2 separate regions of the Homo sapiens genome follow, and region 1 is linked to region 2. Evidence: fine-mapped expression QTL. A gene starts in region 2. The other region holds a variant in brackets. All regions are shown on one strand. Distances are between the middles of the regions.

Region 1 (10,550 bases), 580 kb before region 2:
TGAGAAGTGGGACTGTTTTATGAGTGAGATGCTGACTTCCAGCTTCCTTTATTCCCCACAATTCTCCTGCTCTTTGAGGCATAGATTGCTGGTTACCTACTTATTATCCATTCTCCTCTTCTTTCCTGGTAACAGACTTCAAATTTTATTCAGGATAAACATATGCCCAGCTAAAAGTCTCACTTCCCAGCCCTCATGACAGGTTTGGCTATGTAACTAGGCTCTGGCCAGTTTTTAGTTGACATTGCTTGGTACCACTTCAGGGAAAGTGCCTTAAAAGGGCCTCTTTTTGGCCGGGCGCGGTGGCTCATGCCTGTAATCCCAGCACTTTGGGAGGCCGAGGCGGGCGGATCACGACATCAGGAGATTGAGACCATCCTGGCTAACACGGTGAAACCCCGTCTCTACTAAAAATACAAAAAATTAGCCGGGCGTGGTGGCGGGCGCCTGTAGTCCTAGCTACTCAGGAGGCTGAGGCAGGAGAATGGCGTGAACCCAGGAGGCGGAGCTTGCAGTGAGCCAAGATCGCACCACTGCACTCCAGCCTGGGTGACAGAGCGAGACACCGTCTCAAAAAAAAAAAAAAGGCCTCTCTTTGTCCTTTCTCCCTTCTATCTGGCTGAATATTGCTAGCAGCCATCTTGGACCTTGAGAAAATCTTGAAGACAAAGGCCTATGTTAAGGATAGTGAAACAGAGAGATAGAAATAATTAGGGCCCTTGATATCTGTAGAACTATTATAGCAATCTTGTGGGGGGATATCATCAGACCTGTCATGCGTGAATGTATTAGTCTGCTTGGGCTGCCATAACAAAAAATACCACAGACTGGGTAGCTGAAACAACAGAAATTAATTTTCTCACAGTTCTAGAAGCTAGACGTCTACAATCAAGGTGCCATCAGAGTTGGTTTCTAGCAAGTCTCTCCCTGGCCTGCAGATGGCTGCCTTCTTGCTGTGTCCTCACATGGCCTTTCCTCTGCATGTAAAGGGAGAGCAATTCCTAGTGTCTCTTCTGCATCTCATAATGATATGTCATATTAGATTAGGGCTCCATCCTTAAGACCTCACTTAACCTTCATTACCTCCTTAAATACCTTATCTCCAAATACAGTCACATTGGGGGTTAGGGATTTAATCTACGAATTTTGGGGAGAAACAATTCAGTCCATAACAGTGAGAGAAAATGCTTCTGTCTTGTCTAAGCCAATATTATTTCCGATGTCTAGCAATGTGCACACACTTTCTTAATGATAGACCTCCAAAATCCAAGGAACACCTTCTAAAGCTTCCACCTTGATGGCCTTGTTATCTGAAAGTCCAAAGGAAGGTACCAGAGATGGCATTCTTAAGTCATTTTGAATGCTGATTCATTAATCACTTTCATCCATTCAACTGACAAACATTTACTGAGCATCTACTATACGCCAGATACTGAGTTATGTGCTGGGGACACTAAAGTAAATGAAAATGGTCCTTGACCTCTAGGGGCTTATAGTTTTTATTGATTTACTTACTCTAAGCTCATCTCCTTTGAAAGGGTATTCCTATAATACAGTAAATAAAATACAAGCGGAAATTCAAAACCATGGAAAGGAGGCGTATCCAAATGCCAGCCCTAGGAGCTTATATACATGCCGAAATTGAGCATCCAGGTTGGCTTTAGCTTCCTAGCAACCATGAAAGAGCAAGAGAGCGTGACTTGGTTCTTGTTTTCTGAAAGGAAAATGAATCCCAATCACTCACAGAAGTCAAATGTAAGCATTTTCTTTTCTGAACAAACTCTACCTAGTGTTTGTGGGTGCCCTGAATGTCCTGGAAAGTACCATTTTCTGATCAAATCCTAGTCAACGTTCCTCTAAATTCTATGTGCAGTTCATTAGCTCTTAGATACTCATTGAATAAAGCCAGAGAGTTCCATGGTTTGCACACATGCTTTTGGTTTCCTACTTTAGAGCTTATGGAAGACTGTGAGAGATCACTTCACTCACAGAGAGAATGGGGACTGGTAAATACAGAAAGCTCTGAAGCTTGGACATTAGGTGTATGATTTTAAGAATAAGAAACAGCAAGATGGTATGACCCTAGAAAAGGGCCAGGGTATACAGAAAGATGAAACATCAAGATGAAGTCAGTACACCTCACTCACAGGGTTCCTTTCTTGGTGTATCACAACAGGCAGCATCTTATAAGAGAAAGAGTATGGGTTTGAATCCCAGCTCTGCTACTCTATAACTTACTAGCTCTGTAATTTTGGGGGCTTTAGCAGCCCAGAGACTCAGTTTCCTCAGATAAGATGAAAATGGTGTCTACCTATCATGGGAATTAACTACCAAAACATATATGTAATCTCTGCCATAGTGCAATTATGGTAACAAAAGCCTACATATAAGGGCCTGATCTGTGCCAAGCACTGTATTATACACTTGACATGAATTATATCATTTAATCTTCACCATAAGGTAGATGCTATTCAAGAATTCGAAAACTGTTGGTTTCTCCCCAAAGCTATGCCAAGCCATATCCTTTGATATTTCTGAAAGGAATGTATCAGTGCTTAGAAGCCTCTTTGCCAGATCCACTCCATGCAAAGCAGCTATATTGACACTAATTTTGTAACCATCTGCAATCCCAAAAGTTTGCCGCAACTGGTATAGACTTTTAATTCTCGGGCTCCCCAGTGGGAGTTTGAAGAACTCAAACCCTTCCAAGAGGCTCTTTTTAACCTCCATTTGCAATGGGAAGAAAGACACTGAGGAATTTGGAGCATGCTATTCAAAATAGAGTGCCCAGGCTGCACGGATGGGGAGTGGGAGTTACTGTTTAATAGGTACAACATTTCAGTATGGGAGAATAAAAATGTTCTGGAGATGGATGGTAATAATGGTTTCACAACAATGTGAATGTATTTAATGCCACTAGACTGCATGCTTAAAATGGTTAAAATAATAAATTTATGTCATATATATTTTACAATAAAAGTAACAATAGTAATAATAATAACAAATAAAGTAACCAGGGCTGTGAGGAATCTAAACATCATATATGATAGAGAATATGTGAAAGAATTTAAGTGTTCTGAAGGAAAAAGTTTGAAAGCTCTGGTTTACAGGACAATGGTACTTACTACTTATGAAGCATATCATATATGTCAGGACTTTACCTAGATTATCTTTATTCTCCAGCAGGGCCCTGCAAGGCATTCCTTGCTTATAAGGATCACACAGCTAGAAAGTGGTGAAGATGGGATTTGAATTCAGCCAGTGTTCTTTCTTCTATACCACGCCGCCTCTCGTTCAAATATTAAATAGATGCCTGGATTTTAAAATGCCGAAAATTTATCTCAAGCCTGAGATTTTATTATTCTGAATTGGGATGTAGGGGGTAGAAAGGTCAGATATCCATCTTCTTGAAGGCTCCCTGTACTGCCAGGGCATGTAGGTAAACCTCTCAGCCTATTGAATCCTGCCCTCTAGGGGCAACCATTATGATAAGAGGAAACTGGAGGGTCCTTGAGATCAGAACCAGAGGCAAAACCAGGTTGATGCTGCCAGGGGACTGCATCAGGGCCGCTGGATCATAATCAGCTCCTATGGCTGGGGAGGGAGCCATCAGCCAACAGAGAACACAAAGTAAGCTCCAAATACAGAAAGAGCTACTAAAAGCATTTCTCCCCACAGTGTAGTCACCATATCCCAGAAGAGAAATTTTGAAGAGGAAGAGAAAGACAATGACACAGGAATAATTAGAGTTCGGTGAGAAGGCTCTGAAATCTGCAGTGTATGTTCAAATCCTAGCCTATTGTTCTGTTGGTAAGACTTGTAACAGTTCTGGAGCTGCAGCACAATCTCCTACTTGCCTTGGGTGCCCTCAGAAATCCCTCGGCATCACCTCCTACTCTTCAGTTACCTCTCGCCGCATCACTGAATCTTGCCCTCCAGAAAAACAGATTTGGGAAATGATCCTCAGGTCTAACTCAGTATCACGAACTTCCAGATAACAAAGGTATTAGGCCAGAGTGAAAGGATGAGTGGCAAGGAAATGGGTTTTCTGCAATGCTGGCTATTGATCAGAGACTCCTAGACACTGAATCTGTATTTTTCCCCACTGGATAAAGATGTAGACTTGCTGACCATTAGTTTGCTTCAAAAAGTGGAAGAGCTTTTTGTATAAGAAATGTTTGTGAACATTCTCTTAAAGGAAAACATAGCAGCACTAAGTTCTTCAAGAATGATGAGACAAGCCTTGAGTGAAAAAGGCCTGTGATGCAGCAAGAAGGGGCTGATTCCTGGATGCAACAGAACTCTATTCTGCATGGATGGTGTTACCTGCAGCTGCAAGTTCCACTAGGGAGCTAGGGGCTAGTGAAGGCGGAGTTGAGATACCCCGTATCTACTGTGTGCTGCCTGGACTCCTCACTCTCAAAACGTGTCTGTATCCTTGAGTGAGTAAGTCGGGAAGTTGATGTAATCTTACATGCGTGTGTGTTACAGGTATGAGTGTGTGTTTGTGGCCTCTTTCTACCAATCCACAGATTCTCACTGCATTTCCTCCAGCTTCCTTCAAGAATTTTCTCTTTAAGCTTGTAAGCCGG[T/G]ACGCATTCATGTGAGCTCCACAGATGGCCTGCACCGGCAGCAGGAGTCTTTCCGAGAAGAGCCTTGGAATAGTGAGCAGAGCTGTGGCTGACCAGCCCTGCCGTGTGGATCCAGCTGGAGTCAGCTGGGCTCTACTCCACACAGCGCACGGCTGTCGCCTGCTCACTTCAAGTGGAGGATCTGGCACTTATTTTAGGTCCTTATAAATAATACATTTTGTCATCTTGATTCTTCAAGGCCTTCTTTTAAGCTATTTTTTCCTCTTTGGGAAAACCGCTTTTACTCTACAAGACAGAGTTGTTCATAAATCAAGAGGAGTTCCTGGTGGCCAAAGCCTAAGTTCCTGACTCCAGAAGAAGTGGGCAGCCACCCAACCTGATTAGTCAAAGCCTCATACCAGAAGAGAATCTTATTTTAAGGATGAAAAGAAATGTCCAACATCTGATTCCTTCACCTCCAACCCAGAAAGTCCTAGTGCCTGAGCTTTAAATACGACATTCAACCCCTGCTTCCCCGAGAGTCCCTACAGGCTCATCAAGGTCAGGAAAATACTGAGGGTTCTTACCATCCGTAAAATGGGAACAAGGCTTCCTGTGTATAATTGTCCAAGTGTCTGGCATAAAGTCAGGGTTCAGCCTGTGAGCTCCCCGTTAACTCTTCTAGTCCCTTGCAACTCCCAAGAAGATACATTTATACTTTGAAAAATTGTTACTTTCTTCCTTCTTCACAACCATGAATCAATCACAGAGGAAGTGTTTTCCAGTTAATATGGCACAAAGAAACCTAGTAGGACAGTGACAAAGTGCTGAACTGGAATCAGATAGACCAGGGCTTGAGGCCTGGCTCTGCTACTTGTTACGTGACCTTGGGTAAGTTCCCTAATCTCTCCAGACTTCAATGTCCTAATCAATAAATCGGACAAACCACTAACTTTATAGTCTCTTGCAAACTTTATTGTGCATAAAAATTACCAGGGAATACTGCTAAAGTGCAGATTCCGATTCAGCAGGTCTTAGGTAGTACCTGAGGTTCTCCATTTCTAATTAGCGTCTCCCTCCCTGCCTCTGGTTTGTGGACCACCTTTTGACCAGAAAAGAAGAACATGAACAGTCAAGACATGTTGTAAGTTGTAAAGGGCTATGCCACTTTAAAGTCTGATTCATTAACCATTATCGTTTTACCTTAAAACACAAAGAAGACCATGAATTAACCCTTGATTCTTTATGGGTAAGCAAAATAGTGATTATTTATCTAGTAAAATAACAGGAGCTGGGGTAAACCAGTTGTCACCAATCCTCTCCCCACACCACCCAAAAAAAAATCCAACAACTACTAACCAACAAACTGCAACACTCCTCCTATCAGCTGTGAAAAAGTAAACCTACAAACAAAATCCCTAATAGAGCTTAAAACTATTTCAGATGAAAACTTTTAGGGGTGACAATGTAAACTACCCTGATCCTCAAAAAAGCATTGTTTTAAGACCAAGTGTTTATGACTAAACCTAAGTGTTGGTTTTGAGTATAAAAGCAGATTTGGGTAGGTTGAAAAAGAAAACAAAAAACACATAAACATTGAGTTCCTGAGATTAGTTTGATGGAGGAGGAGAGGAAATTGATGACAGAATTTAATGGAATGGAAGAAGGAAGCCAGTGACAAGGACTGTAAAAAGGGCTTTCCTCCTTCTTGGAACAATCCTATACTCCAAGGCCAACTCCTTGGTGACACCTTTCCTGACAGGCTCAGATAGAGGTGATTTCTGCTCTGGTTGCCAAAGCACTAATACCCACCTCTCTACCCATCCTGGGGCCAGTGCTTATCACACTGTATTGAACACTCACATTGATCTCCAATCCCTTAAGGTCAAGGACCACATCCTATTTATATTCTCAGCCTGGCATAGTGCCCTGGCACATATTAGGCACTCAGTGAATAATGCTGATTGAATGCATGAAGTAGGGGATGTTGAAGAAAAAGTTAATGACCTTTCTTCAGGGTTTGCCTTTCCTGGAGCTATTCATTCATATATTCACTCACTTGGTGTCTTAGTACATTTTGTGCTGCTATAACAGAATAGCACAGACTGGATAATTTATAAATAATAGACGTTTATTGGTTTATAGTTCTGGAGGCTGAGATGTCTAATATCAAAGTGCCAGCATCTGGTGAGGGCCTTCCTGATGCATCGTAACATGGTAGATGGCAAGAGAGTGAGAGAGAGGAAGAGAGAGGGAGAGAGAGAGGAAGAGAGGGAGAGAGATGGGGAGAGGGAGAGAGGTGGAGAGAGAGAGAGAGAGAGAGAGAGGGAAAGGGGGAGGGAGAGGGAGGGAGAGAGAGAGAGAGAGAGAGAGAGAGAGAGAGAGAGAGCACATGTACATGCAAGAGTAAGTCAGGATGAACCGACTCCCTCCATAACAGCATTAGTCCATTCATAAGGGCAGACCTAAACACCTCTTACACGTCCCACCTCTTAATGCTGTTATAATGACCAAGTTTTAACATGAATTTTGGAGGGGACAAACATTCAAACCGTATCACTTAGTAAGCATACATTTTCTAAGTGTGAGTACTCAGACCATTTACTGGTTTTCAGTGTATTTCAGTCTAAGAAATATTTCAAATTTTCTTTATCTCAAGACTGTAAACTTAATAATATGTGATAAGTAAATATGTATAAACTTTTAGCATCTTCCCAAAGTACTTTTCTATTTTCACGGTAAACTGAATATATAATTTTCCTATTTTAAAACAAGGAAACTGAGGTCCAGGAAAAAAAACTATCTAAGGCAGAATCAAACTTTAGGTAAATAAAAATCACTTGGTGCACTTGTCAAAACTACAAGTTCCTGTCACCTACCTCCAGAGATTCTGATTCAGCAGGATGAGATAGAGCCCAGAAACCCACATTTTAATATTCCCCAGGTGATTCTGATGCAAGTGGTCTACAGACCTGGGGCAAGACCCCTACACAATTAAAGTCCAGTCCAGCACTCTCCTTCAGGCTGGGTGCCTGGCCTATTCTGGAGGTCAGCACGGGTTGCAGGTTGTCTCAGGGCTTTGGTTTCAAACCTAGAGTCACAGGATGGGAGGCAAGTCACATGTATGGCACTTTCATGGGGCCTGGTGGCAAAGCCAAAACCAGGGACACACTCAGACAATGAGGGCAGTTCCAAGAGCCCATGAGTAAAATCATGAAGCCAGAATAGTAGCTGGCAAATGGATCCCATTTCTGAGGACTTAAGAGCTGGAAGGCCAGGTTCTGGAAAAGAATTAGGCCTTCTAGGGAAGAGGAACAACAACAACAATTGCAAAGAGGCTCATTTGGGGAAATACTGGAAGTGTTTGATGTATTTATCTTGGCTCTATACCCTTTCTTTTCCACTTTGAGATAGCCTACCAAATGGACAATTCAGTAAAGAACAATAACTGAAGACAGGGTAAGTTTCCCTCTTGTCTGTCTTCCACATCCAAGTCCTGCTGACTGGACCTCTATGTTCTCTCCCATCAGCCCCTTCTTCATCAGCCCACTTCCAAAGCCCTAATTAAAGACCTTGTGCATTACCTTTCATCTGAACTGTAAAAACATCTCAAGGCTCTCCCTGACTCTTGCCTCTCCTTCAAACTACCTCCCCTAGAAAGCCTCATTAATCTCCCCAGAGCATAGGTTTCATCACAGAGTGTAAAAAGTCCACTATATCTGAAGCTAGAAGATCTGGTTCTGGCCCCAGCTCCAGCACCATCATTAACTAGTTGTCTGACCTTGGGTTAGCAACTTCCCCTTTTGGGATTCTGTCATTATGTGTGAGATGGCGATATGGTTTGGCTGTGTCCCCATCCAACTCTCATCTTGAATTCCCATACGTTGTGGGAGGGACCTGGTGGGAGGTAACTGAATCATGGGGGCAAATCATTCTCGTGCTGTTGTCATGATAGTCAATAAGTCTCATGAGATCTGATGGTTTTAAAAAGAGGCATTCCCCTGCACAAGCTCTCTCATTTTTTGCCTGCAACCATGCACATAACATGTGAGTTGCTCATCCTTGCCTTCCGCCATGATTGTGAGGCCTCCCCAGCCACGTGGAACTGTAAGTCCAATTTAACCTCTTTCTTTGGTAAACTGCTCAGTTTCAGGTATGTGTTTATTAGCAGTGTGAAAATGGACTAATACAGTAAACTGGTACCAGTAGAGTGGGCTGCTGCTGAAGATACCCGAAAAAGTGGAAGTGACTTTGGAACTGGGTATCAGGCAGAGGTTGGAACAGTTTGGAGGGCTCAGAAGAAGACAGGAAAATGTGGGGAAAGTTTGGAACTCCCTAGAGACTTCTTGGAGACTTGCTGGATGGCTATGATCAAAATGCTGATAATGATATGGACATGAAATCCAGGCTGAGGTGGTCTCAGATGGAGATGAAGAATTTGTTGGGAACTGGAGCAAAAGTGACTCTTGTTATGTTTTAACAAAGAGATTGGCGGTATTTTGTCCCTGCCCTAGAGATTTGTGAAACTTTGGAAAGAGATGATTTAGGGTATCTGGCGGAAGAAATTTCTAAGCAGCAAACATTCAAGAGGTGACTTGGGTGTTGTTAAAATCATTCAGCTTTATAAGGGAAGCCAAGCACAAAAGTTTGGAAAACACCTGACATTTTCCAGCCTGACAATGCACTACAAAAGAAAATCTCATTTTCTGAGGAGAAATTCAAGCCAGCTGCAGAAATTTGCATAAGTAACGAGGAGCCAAATGTTAATCCCCAAGACAAGGGGGAAAAATGTCTCCAGGGCATGTCAGAGCAGCCCCTTCCATCATAGGCCAGAAGGTCTAGGAGGAAAATATTATTTTGTGGGCTGGGAGCAGGGTCCCTGTGCTGTGTGCAGCCTAGGGACTTGGTGCTCTTTGTCAGCACTGGCTGAAAGGGGCCAACGTAGAGCTTGGGCCGTGGCTTCAGAGGGTGCGAACCTCAAACCTTGGCAGCTTCCACATGGTGTTGAGCTTGCAAGTGCACAGAAGTCAAGAACTGGGGTTTGGGAACCTTCGTCTAGATTTCAGAAGTGTATAGAAAAGCCTGGATGCCCAGGCAGAAGTTTGCTGTAGGGGTGGGGTCCTCATAGAGCACCTCTGCTAGGGCAGTGCAGAAGGAAAATGTGGGGTGGGATTCCCCACACAGAGTCCCTACTGGGGCACTGCCTAGTAGAGCTGTGAGAAGACGGCCACCATCCTCCAGAACCCAGAATGGTGGATCCAATGACAGCTTGCACTGTGTGCTTGGAAAAGCTGCAGACACTCAACCCCAGCCCGTGAAAATAACCAAGAGGGAGGCGGTACCCTGCAAATCCACAGGGGTGGAGCTGCTCAGGACTATGGGAACCTACCTCTTGCATCAAGTGACCTGGATGTGAGACACAGTGTCAAAGGAGATCATTTTGGAGCTTTAAGATTTGACTGCCCCGCTGGATTCTGGACTTGCATGGGGCCTGTAGCCCTTTGTTTTGGCCAATTTCTCCCATTTGGAATGACTGTATTTACCCAATGCCTGTAACCCCATGGTATCCAGGAAGTAACTAATTTGCTTTAGATTTTACAGACTCATAGGCAGAAGGGACTTGCCTGGTCTCGGATGAGACTCTGGACTGTGGACTTCTGAGTTAATGCTAAAATGAGTTAAGACTTTGGGGGACTGTTGGGAAGGCATGATTGGTTTTGAAATGTGAGGACACATGAGATTTGGGAGGGGCCAGGGTGAAATGATATGGTTTAGCTCCGTGTCCCCATCCAAATCTCATCTTGAATTCCCACGTGTTGTGACAAGGACCTGGTGGGAGGTAATTGAATCAGGGGGGCAAGTCTTTCCCATGCTGTTCTCATGATAGTGAATAAGTCCCATAAGATCTGATGGTTTTAAAAAGAGGTGTTCCCCTGCACAAGCTCTCTCATTTTTTTGCCTGTCTACCACCCACGTAAG
Region 2 (8,148 bases):
GTGTAGTCTTCAACTGGTTAGTGTGAAATAGTTCTGCCACCTCTGACGCACCACTGCCAATGCTGTACGTACTGCATTTGCCCCTTGAGCCAGGTGGATGTTTACCGTGTGTTATATAACTTCCTGGCTCCTTCACTGAACATGCCTAGTCCAACATTTTTTCCCAGTGAGTCACATCCTGGGATCCAGTGTATAAATCCAATATCATGTCTTGTGCATAATTCTTCCAAAGGATCTTATTTTGTGAACTATATCAGTAGTGTACATTACCATATAATGTAAAAAGATCTACATACAAACAATGCAACCAACTATCCAAGTGTTATACCAACTAAAACCCCCAATAAACCTTGAACAGTGACTACTTTGGTTAATTCATTATATTAAGATATAAAGTCATAAAGCTGCTAGTTATTATATTAATTTGGAAATATTAGGCTATTCTTGGGCAACCCTGCAACGATTTTTTCTAACAGGGATATTATTGACTAATAGCAGAGGATGTAATAGTCAACTGAGTTGTATTGGTACCACTTCCATTGTAAGTCCCAAAGTATTATATATTTGATAATAATGCTAATCATAATTGGAAAGTAACATTCTATATGTAAATGTAAAATTTATTTGCCAACTGAATATAGGCAATGATAGTGTGTCACTATAGGGAACACAGATTTTTGAGATCTTGTCCTCTGGAAGCTGGTAACAATTAAAAACAATCTTAAGGCAGGGTGCAGTGGCTCATGCCTATAATCCCAGCACTTTGGGAAGCCCAGGTGGGCTGATCACTGGAGGCCAGGAATTGGGGACCAGCCTGGCCAACACAACAAAACCCCATCTGTTAAAAAAACAAAACAAAACCAAAAAAAACAAGTAACCTTGGTGGATGTCTACTCAAGTTTTCTGCACATTTTTCTGAAAATACAACTGTGACCCTTATCCAGGCCTGAAAACCATACTTGTAAAGGTTAACTGAACAACATTATTGTCATTCCCAACTCCAGGATCTTTTTCCAAAGATTCTTTCCTGAGAGCTAGTTAAGGGAAGGAATTATCTTAAAGCCTGGTTGTCCAATCTTTTGCTTTCCCTGAGCCACATTGGAAGAAGAATTGTCTTGGGCCACACATTAAATACACTAACATGTGCCAGCTGTGGTGGCTGACACCTATAATCCCAGCACTTGGGGAGGCTGAGGCGGGTGGATCAGGAGTTCAAGACTAGCATGGCCAACATGGTGAAACCCCATCTGTACTAAAAATCGAAAGATTTGCCAGGTATGGTGGCCTATGCTTGTAATCCCAGCTACTTGGGAAGCTGAGGCACAAGAGGCTGAGGTGAGAGGATCGCTTGAACCGGGGAGGCAGAGATTGAAGTGAGCCAAGATGGCACCACTGCACTCGAGCCTGGGCAACACAGCGAGACTGTCTCAATAAAAATTAAAGAAATTAACACTAATGATAGCTGATGAGCTACAAAAAAGTTCATGATCTGGATACCTGCTGCCACCTAAAGAGTCCTCACATTCAAAGGGTTGGACACAGCTATAAAGCGTATCGTTCTGTGGATTTTTAGTGTATTCACATAGTTGGCAACCATCACCAGTATCTAATCTTAGAATATAGGCTGGGTGCAGTGGCTTCAAATTCCCAGCACTTTAGGAGGCCAAGGTGGGTAGATTGCTTGAGCCCAGGAGTTCCAGACCAGTCTGGGCAACATGGCAAAAGCCTGTCTCTACAAAAAAGAAATTAGCTAGGCGTGGTGGCAGGTGCCTGTAGTCCTAGCTGCACAGGAGGCTCAGGTGGGAGGATCCCTTGAACCCGGGAGATAAAGGTTGCAGTGAGCCAAGATCCCACCACTGTACTCCAGCCTGGGTGACAGAGTGAGACCCTGTTTCAAAAAAAAAAAAAAGAATATTTTAATTAGCACAAAAAGAGGCCTGTACTTAATCCTGTAGCCTTTTGTAAACTTTGAGTCACCTTCAGTCTTTAAAATTTTTAAATTTACATTAATTTTATATTATTTGATACAATAAATTAGTCAATACCAACATGACTGAAAAATAATATTTAAGTGAAATAGACTGATTCTATTAATCTTTCATGAATTTTCAAATGCAATCTTGTAAAGTTTCCTTACTTATGGGCAAAATAAATGTTCCAGGTTCAGTTTGTACCTTCCTGCCCCAGGCAAGGAATAGGCCAACTCTGCAAAGAAACTTGATTTTTTTTTTCCATAGTAACCTTGGGAACTAAATTAAGCAGGCCTTATCCCCATCTCACAGAAGTTGCCAGTTAGTGTAGAAGCAAATGTGATGCTCAGAACATGGTTCTACTTCCTTTTTTTCCCCCACTAAAGCCCATGTTGCCAAAATAAAACTCAGTACTTCAAAGCCATGTTCTTTAAAAATTCTTTAAATTTTTTTTTTATTTTGGCCAGGTGCGGTGGCTCACGCCTGTAATCCCAGCACTTTGGGAGGCTGAGGCGGGTGGATCACAAGGTCAGGAGATTGAAAACATCCTGGCTAACATAGTGAAACTCCATCTCTACTAAAAATACAAAAAATTAGCTGGGCATGGTGGCGGGCGCCTGTAGTCCCAGCTACTCGGGAGGCTGAGGCAGGAGAATGGCGTGAACCCGGGAGGCGGAGCTTGCAGTGAGCCGAGATCGGACCACTGTACTACAGCCTGGGCGAGACTGCGAGACTCTGTCTCAAAAAAAATTATTTTATTTTATTTTGTTTTTATTTTTGGGGGTAGAGATGGGGGTCTCCCTATGTTGCCAGACTGGTCTTGAACTCCTGGGCTGAAGCCTCGGCCTCCCAAAGTGCTGGGATTGCAGGAGTGAGCCACCATGTCTGGCCCAAAAATTCTTTAGTGAGTACCTACTATGCTTTGGTAAATGTTGCAATGTACAAGAATAAATAAAGACAAATTTTGGTTCTAAAGTTACTGCAATCAAGTAAGCAAAATGTTAAGTAAGTTTGGAGTATTTGGGCAGGCATGGATGAAGAGCCAGTTCTAGTCATCTAGCATCAGTTTGGCCACTACCAAGCTGATACCTTCCTTGGCCGCCAGGGGCCTGAGGCAGGTGTAGAGCTTAAATTTCCAGTCCATCCAGGCCAGCAATCTCCCTCTCAGCCCGGGGATAAATGAGGTTGCTGTGGAGGTATAGGACCAAGTGGTTGCTGCTCCTGTCTGCTATAGGAGGCCTCTAGCTTCAGGCTAGTTGCTGGTTGAGAAAAGTGCCATAAGAGAGAGATATACAGGAAATGATGGTAGTTGACATTTGTCAAGGAAAGCCAGAGTATGTATGTGCAAAGCTGAAAATGAGGAATTAACCTTGAGAAGGGCTGGGGAAAGAGCTTTCTTGGTTTAAAGAACAGCAAAAAGTCCTGATCCAAAAAAGCTGTCCAAAGCCTAGTTGGAAGGAAGTGTATTGAGTGTCCTGAGATGATATGGGAAGTGGGGGTAGGAGGCCAAATCTTGAAGATCTAGGTTGTGGTAAAAGTGGGTTACTCTACCTGTAATGGAAAGCCACGGAAGAGTTTAAAGCAGGGTTATTGCATAATCTGAACCATATTGAAAACAAATACTGACTGGGTGCGGTGGTTCACGCCTGTAATCCCAGCACTTTGGGAGGCCGAGGTGGGTGGATCACTTGAGGTCAAGAGTTCGAGACCAGCCTGGCCAGCAAGGTGAAATACAAAAAAATACAAAAAAATTTGCCCGGCGGCTGGGCACGGTGGCTCAGCACGGTGGCTCACGCCTGTAATCCCAACACTTTGGGAGGGCGGATCACTAGGTCAGGAGTTGGAGACCATTCTGACCAACATGGTGAAACCCCATCTCTACTAAAAATACAAAAATTAGCCGGGCGTGGTGGCGCACGCCTGTAGTCCCAGTTACTTGGGAGGCTGAGGCAGGAGAATTGCTTGAACCCAGGCGGCGGAGGTTGCAGTGAACTGAGATTGTGCCACTGCACTCCAGCCTGGGCGACAGAGTGAGACTCTGTCTCAAAAACAACAACAATAACAACACTACAGGCTATTATAAGAAAAATAAATTATATTTTGGATTTTGAAAAAGGTTCAAATGCAAATACTCTACAAAAGATGGAGTAGGTTGTGTCCCCTTCTGTGAGATATATATCTCTCTCACAAAAAAAAAAATATATATGTAAATTTTTTTTGAGATGGAGTTTCTCTCTTGTTGCCCAGTCTGGAGTGCAGTGGCGCGATCTTGGCTCACTGCAACCTCCGCCTCCTGGGTTCAAGCGATTCTCCTGCCTCAGCCTCCCAAGTAGCTGGGACTACAGGCATGCACCACCATGCCCGACTAATTTTATATTTTTAGTAGAGACGGGGTTTCGCCATGTTGGCCAGGCTGTTCTCAAACTCCTGACCTCAGGTGATCCACCTGCCTCGGACTCCCAAAGTGCTGGGATTACAGGTGTGAGCCACCGCGTCCGGCCATGAGTTATAAATATTAACAATTTCTTGCTGTAAATTGAAAGCATCCTTCGCGTCTTTGCGTTTCATTACCACCCTCTGTTCTCTCAAGAGAAATTCTAACTTTATTTCAGCACTCAGTCCTGAAGTTACAGAAGTTAATAATTTTTTAAAATCCTGCAAACAATGCATGGATATCCCCGTCTTGCACACTCTTTGGGCCAGTCTAGAATTCTTCCCATCAGCATTTCGGTGATCTGGACCGCCGCCACCCACACTGCGCTCCAGGGCAGAAAAGACGCCCCATGCCCGCGCCTGGGCCGGCGGGGGGCGGAGCTTGCGTGCTGACGCATAAGAGCCGAGCGGGGGAACGTGCGTGTCTCGAGTCGCACGGAGGGCAACCGTCGACGGGCTTAGCGCCTCAACTGTCGTTGGTGTATTTTTCTGGTGTCACTTCTGTGCCTTCCTTCAAAGGTGGTGCTTTGTCCCTGTGGGTCATCTGTACTGATTGCGCCAAGCAAAGCATTTGTGAGCGTGTGGTGCTGGGGTGAAAGTGGTGGCTGGGGGCAGGGAGAAATCCAAAAGCCCGCTGGTGCCCCAGCCCTCCCATTGCCTGGTAGACTGGGCCTTGCTTTACCCTCCCCGCATCCTTTGACCAGGAAATTCTTTCTTTGGCTTCCCCCCATCCCCGGCTCCAACATTCTGCAAACTGAAGAGGTAGTTTCTTAGATGTTCAGTGTGGTTAATCCAATGAAATTGCATTATCCCTATCAGGTTCTCCAAATGTCAACTGTCAAGGAGCAGCTAATTGAGAAGCTAATTGAGGATGATGAAAACTCCCAGTGTAAAATTACTATTGTTGGAACTGGTGCCGTAGGCATGGCTTGTGCTATTAGTATCTTACTGAAGGTGAGTGAGAAGCCCATCCTGTGGCTGAAAATCAAGTGAGCACTTCAGAGTGTTGTATATGTCGATGTATTCAGGGTTGCAAGGTTAATCCCTTGAAAGCAATTATGTATCCTTTGACCTTTCCTCCCTCCCTCCCTCCCTCCCTTCCTTCCTTCCTTCCTTCCTTTTTCTTTCTCTCTTTCTTTTCCTTTTTTTTTAAACTTCTTCTTTCTTTTCCTTTCTTTTTTTTTCTGACTTTCCTTTTCTTTTTCTTTTTTTGAGACAGGATTTGTCTGTTACCCAGGTTGGAGTGCAGTGGCGCGATCTTGGCCCACTGCAACCTCCACCTCCCGGGATCAAGCGATTCTCCTGCCTCAGCCTCTTGAATAACTGGGGCCACAGGCATGCACCACCAGGCCTGGCTAATTTTTTATATTTTTAGTAGAGATGGGGTTTCTCCATGTTGGCCAGGCTGGTTTCGAACTCCTGACCTCAAGTGATCCGCCTGCCTCGGCCTCCCAGAGTACTGGGATTACAGGCATGAGCCACCACACCTGGCTGCCAATAGGTATTGTTTTTAACCCTTGTGCCCTCCTCCCTCTCTGCTTTTGGAGTCCCCAGTGTTTATTGTTCTCTCTTTTTTTTTTTTTTTTTTTTTTGAGACGGAGTCTCGCTCTGTTGCCAGGCTGGAGTGCAGCGGCAGGATCTCGGCTCCCGGCAACCTTTGCCTCCCGGGTTCAAGCAGTTCTCCTGCCTCAGCCTCCTGAGTAGCTGGGACTACAGGCATGTGCCACCACGCCCAGCTAATTTTTATATTTTTAGTAGAGACGGGGTTTCATCATGTTGGCCAGGATGGCCTTGATTTCTTGACCTCGTGATCCGCCTGCCTCAGCCTCCCAAAGTGCTGGGATTACAGGCATGAGCCACCACGCCTGGCCTTAAGTAGGGACTTTTACTTCTTTCCCTTACTGTTCGCTTTTGGAATCTGGCTATTGAAATCTGAATGAATACACTCCTTGTATATAGTTCCGTACTCTGTCACATGTGACAAAAACCCAGTTTAAATTAGGGTAAGCAGAAAAAGACGAAATATTGTTCATGTAACTGGAAATAGGGCAAAACTGCTTCAGGTACTACCGGATTCTGAAGTTCACACATATCAAGACATAGTCTTTGTATATCTTGGTTTAGATTTTCTCTGTTGGCTTAATTCGTAGAGCCTTTCTATGTGGTGGTAAAGATGGCTGTACAGTTTGTTCTTAGATTCTTGTTTTTTCTCCAACTCTACAGTCCTTACTAATGTTCTTAGATTTGCATGTTATTCTTAGAGCTTATGATTCCAAAGAAAAGTGAGATGTAATCTTCCGTCTTCCATTTTCAAACTTCATAGACATGCTTGTTTCTTATACCTGGGCCATATGTCCACTTATGAACTGATTTCTGTGACCAGAAGGAAAGGATGGAACAATTGGCTAGGTCTGGTTTTATGCCCATCTACCCTAAGCTTGGAAAACCAATGTTAATTGTACTGCACTGAAACATATGGAATGGGTTCCCATGGAAAAGAGAAATTCTATTACCAGAAAAAGGGACACTAGACAGATGAAAACAATAAGTGTTCATCAGAGGTGGTTACCTTCCTGTTTGGGCCATAACGACGCATACTAAAAGCAGCTTTAGCCAACTCAGAAATTAGGGTTAAGGTTAAATATAATAAAATCCTGGCCGGGCGCAGTGGCTCAGGCCTGTAATCCCAGGACTTTGCGAGGCTGAGGTGGGTAGATCACTTGAGGTTAGGAGTTTGAGACCAGCCTGACCAATATGGTGAAACCCCGTCTGTACTAAAAATACAAAAATTAGCCGGACATGGTGGCGGGCGCCTGTAATCCCAGCTACTCGGGAGGCTGAAGCACGAAAATTGCTTGAACCTGGGAGACGGAGGTTGCAGTGCCCGAGATTGTGCCACTGCACTCCAGCCTGGGCGACAGAGTGAGACTTCATCTCAAACAAAACAAAACAAAAAACACAAAAATAAAGGCTAAATATAATAAAAGCCTTTGAAATCATTTTATTTTCCTTGGTTTCAAACTGTTATCTGAATGGCAAAAAAAAACAAAAACAAAAAACACCCAGCTCTAAAAAGTTCTAACAATTATATGAAGTCAAACAATTTTTGCTACATCTTAATATTTACTTACCTTGACTTTCGGTCACCCAGGCTCATTGAAAAACTATTTTTATATCATTTTTCCCTATTAAAATATGAGATTCCTTTAATTATCAAGTAGCCACATGAAAATTCTTCTTATTCTCCTAAAACTTAAGTAGGAACATTTTATTCAGAACTTTTGTATATTTTAGGATTTGGCTGATGAACTTGCCCTTGTTGATGTTGCATTGGACAAACTGAAGGGAGAAATGATGGATCTTCAGCATGGCAGTCTTTTCTTTAGTACTTCAAAGATTACTTCTGGAAAAGGTTAATTTTAGTTTTATAAAGTTATTTTCAAAGCTTTTTAAAAAAGTAATAAATTTTACCAAACAGATGTCAATAAATATAAAATTAAAAATAGCACCATGCCATTGGGCCATATAATTTAATTTAGTTGATCAATTTTTTTTGTTTTTTGAGAGAGTCTCACTCTGTCACCCAGATTAGAGTGCAGTGGCGCGATCTTGGCTCACTGCAACCTCCACCTCCCAGCTTCAAGTGATTCTCCTGCCTCGGTCTCCTGTGTAGCTGGGATTACAGGCATGCGCCACCACGCCTGGCTAATTTTTGTATTTTTAATAGAGACGTAGTTTTGCCATG

What was found.
Region 1: its variant is fine-mapped to the expression of LDHC in minor salivary gland (GTEx, PIP 0.94).

Annotation. Positions count from the first base shown.
Region 1 is chr11:17,823,729-17,834,278 of GRCh38, forward strand. The region is part of intron 10 of SERGEF (secretion regulating guanine nucleotide exchange factor); the gene reads right to left. Among named protein-coding and RNA genes, the nearest start is that of KCNC1, 94 kb to the left of the region's middle. RefSeq lists an enhancer at 9,496-9,996. The variant T/G (reference allele first, on the strand shown) is at 4,593.
Region 2 is chr11:18,407,487-18,415,634 of GRCh38, forward strand. It overlaps LDHC (lactate dehydrogenase C), which reads left to right and starts at 4,832. Exons shown (of 8, transcript NM_017448.5): 1 at 4,832-4,922; 2 at 5,223-5,357; 3 at 7,698-7,815. The coding sequence starts at 5,232. LDHA (lactate dehydrogenase A) reads left to right here. Exons shown (of 8, transcript NM_005566.4): 8 at 1-939.